Linked DNA regions of Homo sapiens: region 2 is linked to region 1. A link means that fine-mapping ties the variant in region 1 to the expression of a gene that starts in the linked region. Tissue or cell type: whole blood. Region 1 holds a variant in brackets; the other region holds the start of a gene. All regions are shown on one strand. Distances are between the middles of the regions.

What was found. PIP is the estimated chance that this variant, and not a neighbour inherited with it, causes the effect.
Region 2: MAK starts here. The variant in region 1 is fine-mapped to the expression of MAK in whole blood (INTERVAL, PIP above 0.99).

What each region holds. Positions count from the first base shown.
Region 1 is chr6:10,757,642-10,760,324 of GRCh38, reverse strand. It overlaps a transcript of TMEM14B not described here. Among named protein-coding and RNA genes, the nearest start is that of TMEM14B, 11 kb to the right of the region's middle. The variant CAA/A (reference allele first, on the strand shown) is at 1,389.
Region 2 is chr6:10,836,962-10,839,644 of GRCh38, reverse strand. MAK (male germ cell associated kinase) reads left to right here and starts at 1,106. Exons shown (of 15, transcript NM_001242957.3): 1 at 1,106-1,142. RefSeq lists enhancers at 424-583, 634-693 and a silencer at 914-1,043.

The DNA.
Region 1 (2,683 bases):
GAAAGAGCACACGCAGAGCCAGCTGTGCAGGAGACTGGAGTTTTATTGGTACTCAAATCAGTCTCCCAGAGCATTCAAGGATTGAAGTGTTTAAGGGTTACTTGGTGTGCCAGGGGCAGCCAGGTGACTCAGGAGTGCTGACTGGTCCGGTGGGAGATTAAGTCATAGGGAGTGCAAGCTGTTGTCTTGCACTGAGTCAGTTCCTGGATGGGGGCCACAAGATCAGATGAGCCAGTTTATCAATTTGGGCGGTGCCAGGTGATCCATCAAGTGCAGGGTCTGTAAGAGAAAGTGCTCCTAACCGAAATTAGCCGGGAAGCCTCTCAGGTTTTAAGTAAAGAAAACCTGTCTTTGACTACAAAGCCACGTTTCATGTTTCTTTCTTCTTTCTTTAACTCTTACAGGCATGACTATGGTCAGTGAGCCAATTCTAGTCCATTGCCTGTTTTTGTGCAGAGAGCAAGCTAAGAATAGATTTGCATTTTGAAATGGTTGAAAAAAATCAAAATAAGACTATTTTGTGATATGTAGAAATCATATGAAATCCAGATTTCAGGGCCCATACATAGTTTTATTGGAACAGTCACACTCGTTTATTGATTGGCTGTGGCTGCTTTCATTCTACAAAGGCAGAGGTGAACAGCTGGGACACAGATGGCCTGAGAAGCCTAAAATATTCACTATCTGGCCCTTTACAGAACAAGTTTGCAGACTTCCAGCTTAATGTGTCAAAGATTTTTACAAAGTCCAATTACACAAAGCCACCACTAGTGGGAGGATAAATTGGTGCATCCTCTTCTGAAGGCAATCACAATTTTAAATGCTGAGATGCTCTGACTCAGCATTTAGGAATGTAACCTACAGATTCCTTTGCACATGTTCACGGGGATTTCCATGAGGATATTTCTTGGTACACCATCCTTTGTAATATCAAAGGCCTCAGGGGATCTGCCCACCTCAGCCTCCCAAAGTGTTGGGATTACAAGCATGAGCCACTGCTCCCGGCTATCAAAGGCATTAAACAAGACATATTTCTATCAGTAGGGGAATAGTAAACTAAATAGTAATCATCCGTACAACTTAAAAGCCATTAAAAAGAATTAGATCTTGGCCTGGTGCGGTGGCTCATGCCTGTAATTCCAGCACTTTGGGAGGCAAGACAGGTGGATCACCTGAGGTCAGTTCAAGACCAGCCTGGCCAACATGGTGAAACCCCATCTCTACTAAAAATACAAAAAATTAGCTGGGTGTGGTGGTGCACACCTGAAATCCCAGCTACTCAGGAGGGTAAGGCAGGAGAATCGCTTGAACCTGGGAGGTGGAGGTTGCAATGAGCTGAGATCGCACCATTGCACCCCAGCTTGGGCAACAAGAGCCATACTCCATCT[CAA/A]AAAAAAAAAAAAAAAAAAAAAAAAGAATTAGATCTCTAAGGAAAGGGTTGAACCCAGTTATGCTACATAGTTTCATGCCTTTGAGGCACTGTATATATTGCTCGCTCTGAGACATTTGCCCCGTCCTTACCTATGAATTTCTCAGACAACTCACAAAAGGAGTTCATGTCAACTGATTCATGCATCAACTGACAAGACTCAGCTTAACTGTTGGTTCCTTTGTGAAGCCTACCTTGACTCCCTCAACAGAAATGCCCACTCCCCTCCTTGTGCCCCCACAGTAATATGGATCTACCTCCATCATACACTTATTTCTATACTGCCTTTGTTTAGATGTCCACCTCCTCCACCAGACTCCAGAAGGGCAAGCACCATGGCTTGTTCTTTGCACTGCTAGGACCCAGCACAACCCTTAGGCAGTAAATACTCAGGGATCTTTGCAGAGAAGCAGGGATGAGGGCACTTGGCAAGGGCTATGAAGATCTCCTGCCTCTCATCTGTGGGCAGCCTTAGAATTTTCCAGGCTGATTGCTGGGGATCAAATAGTCACATGGGGATCTACTTGGCACCTAAACTAATTCCCACATTCAGGGAACCTTGTCATTCATGAGGAGCCAGGTCCTCCTCTAGGACTGAAGGTGGCAAAAATGTGTGCCCTTTGGAAACACTCCATGACACATGAAAAAATGGCCAACGTTGAGACTCAAAATCTTAGCTATGGAAGCCTGGGAGGATGATAGCTTTGGATGATCTGTGGCCTTCTGATGCCTCTACCACTGCAACACAAGAGCCCTTAATTGTCCAGAGTCCTATAAAAAAGGATGGAAAACTAGGACCACCATCCAGGGGCTTATGCAAATACATAAAGTGTCTGAATTATACTCTAAACTCAACCAGTATCAGTTAGGGTAAATCAGTAGCAAATATCTTTTTTTTTTTTTTTGAGACAGAGTCTCACCCTGTCGCCCAGGTTGGAGTGCAGTGGCGTGATCTCGGCTCGCTGCAACCACAGCCTCCTGGGTTCAAGCAATTCTCCTGCCTCAGCCTCCTGAATAGCTGGGATTACAGGCATGAGCCACCACACCCAGCTAATTTTTGAATTTTTAGTAGAGACAGGGTTTCACCATGTTGGCCAGGCTGGTCTCAAACTCCTGACCTCAGGTGATCCACCCATCTCGGCCTCCCAAAGTGTTGGCACTACAGGCGTGAGCCACCGCGCCCAGCTCCTTACCTTTTTAAAGAGGGAATGAAAACTAAAACAAAGGGCACCAGATTGAGTTAATTCTTCATGT
Region 2 (2,683 bases), 79 kb before region 1:
TCTCTCCCATCCTCCCCTTTCTGAGTCTCCAAAGTCCATTATTTCACTGTGTATGCCTTTGCATACTCATAGCTTGGCTTTTGCTTATAAGTGAGAACATACAGTTTTTGGTTTTCCACGCCTGTATTACTTTGCGTAGAATAAGGACCTCCCACTCTTCCAAGTTGTTGCAAAAGACATTATTTCATTCTTTTTTTGTGACTGAGTAGCAGCCTATGGTGTATATATACCACATTTTCTTTATCCACTCATTAGTCAATGGGCACTTAGATTGGTTCCACATCTTTGCAATTGTGAATTGTGCTGCCATAAACATACGCGTGAAAGCCTACTTCACTTTAAGCTGTGAGGGCCACAGGCATGTCTGTCGTGTCTACCTTGGCGCTATTCTTGGTCCCAAGCCCACATCCTGACACCTAATAATTACTAACTTGCCGCACCACTGCTTCATCACTTATGTTTCTGTTTCGTAGACCCTTTTTGCCAGCCAATCTGAACTATTTGCAGTAACACAAGTGTGCCTTCCTCTCTAAATTCTAGACTAGTTACAATTTACCCATTTATTCACACATTCAGTCATTTTTCTTGGAATTACCACTATCTAACTCTGTGGCTGATACTAGGCAGGTTCTCTGAATGAATAAATGGAAACAAACTTAGAAGGGCAGCTCAAGAGGTAATACATACCCAAGGAATTGACCAATTTAAGGAACTGCATACAAGAACAGTTTTTCCCCAGGCACAAGTAAACAAGTGCAAGTATGAGGCAAACAGACTTCCTTCTCTTGCTCTGCCCGGTCTGGGAACCATATTTTAATTAATCAAGACTTTGTAGAATGAATCGGAACAAAACCAAAACAAAATAAAGGGCAAACAAACCAACTTCTGACAAAGACCTGACTGAAAAGGTAATCAACTCCCCTAAACCCCAAGTCTAAATGGCACACTTGCTGCAGCTCAGCCGACAGTCCCCCGGCTCCATGAAGCCCCGCCCCGGGGAAGGCGGGGCCTGCGGGAATTGGCGGGGATTTCCCGCGAGGCCACGCCCTCTCTGGGCCGGCCGTAGGCCCGCCTGCTGCCCCCGCCGTTTCCTAGGAGATGAAACACACAAGACGCCGGAGCTTCACAAGGGAGCGAACGAGGTAAGCAGCAGGCGCGGACAGGTAATCCCCAGCGGGCTGCAGGGCCACCACCCTCTGTCCGACCCAGCCGGAGCCCGACCTGCGAGGCTGGCCGGGCATGTCCCCTCGGCGCCCTGTGCTACCAGGGCCAATCTCCGCCCGGAGACCGGTCCCTGACGCCGGTAGGGGAAGGACTGGAGGGAGGAGGGTCCCCGGAGGGGCGGAGCGGGCGGGAGTGGTCAGCCCGAGGGAAGGCGGTCGGTGTCTCCCAGACCTCTTGACCACTTTCCCGCCTCCTGGACCGCGGGGGCCGGCCTGGCGTGGGAGGATGACGGCCGGGCGTCCCTTAGCCTGAGACCCCCGCCCCTAAACTCTCCTCCGGGATCTCCCACCTCTGCTCCCCTGCTGCTTGGGCTGGCGGTGGAAACTGTTTTTAGGACAGAGAGGCAGGATTGGGTCTCAGGGAGGCAGCGGAACTGAGTTCAGAACTGTTGCAAAATCTAAAAGGAGGGAGAAAAACAGGAATTAGGTCCGACTCCAGCCCTCGCTGGTGCATCCCAAAGGACGCTCAGGTGAAAGTGGAATTCCGCACACCCCCGTCCCCCCCAACGGCGCCGGACTCCCGGCGCCCGGGGACGCCCCCTCCTTCCACCACGCGGTCCCTGGAGCCTTTTAAGAGCCCTGGTTTGCAGAGTCGGATCAGAAAGTGTGTGACGAAAACTGTCCCTTTTCTGCAAGTAATCCGTTTTAATTTAGGGACAGGTCGAGAGTGCGGTGTCGAGAGCAATAAAACTGGTTTTTAGTGGTTAGTAATCTCAATCCTACAAGGAAAGAGCTGTATGCAAATGTGGTTAGATAATCGTTTAAAAGAAACAGACATTTGTTCTAATGATAACGGAATTCTCAAAGAGGGAAGCCAAAGTTATCTGACTTTATTTATTCAGAAACACAACCCATTAAGTGAAATAATGGTGAAAACAAAAGTGACTTTCCAGCTTTTCGATCGGGCCCCGCCTCCCCGGCCCTTCAATTCCCGAGGCTTGACCGGGAGGGAGAAAGTTCCCCCAACCGCGCCACCGCCTGCTTCCACTGCAGGCACCGGGCAGGACGTTTAATCTCTTCGTCGGGGTGGACTTTTTTTGTGTATAAGCTTTGAAATAATTTGTGAATATGAGCACAGAGAACTGTGCTTTTATATTTTAAGATACAGTCTTTGTTTTCCCATTGTAATAGCTCATTTAATTTCTGTAAAACTTCGACTTGGTTAGTTTGGGATCTTTTTTTCCTGCGTTGCTTTTTAAAGAGTTTGGTGACTTTTAAAACGTTAATTACTCTTTTGTTGTGTATTAGAAGCGTTAAGCCAGCCTCGGAGTGACATAATATGTTCTAGAAAGCCACGTTGAAGACATCCAAGCCTTATCTCTTCAGTTTTTGGCAGACGCTTGTTTTACCCTTCATTTGCCCTCTTTGCTAATCTTCTTTAATCCTATCTGAATCTCTTATTAGCTGGCAAAAGCTGTTGAGAGTAAAGGCTATATTTACAACAATTGTGCACTTAGAGA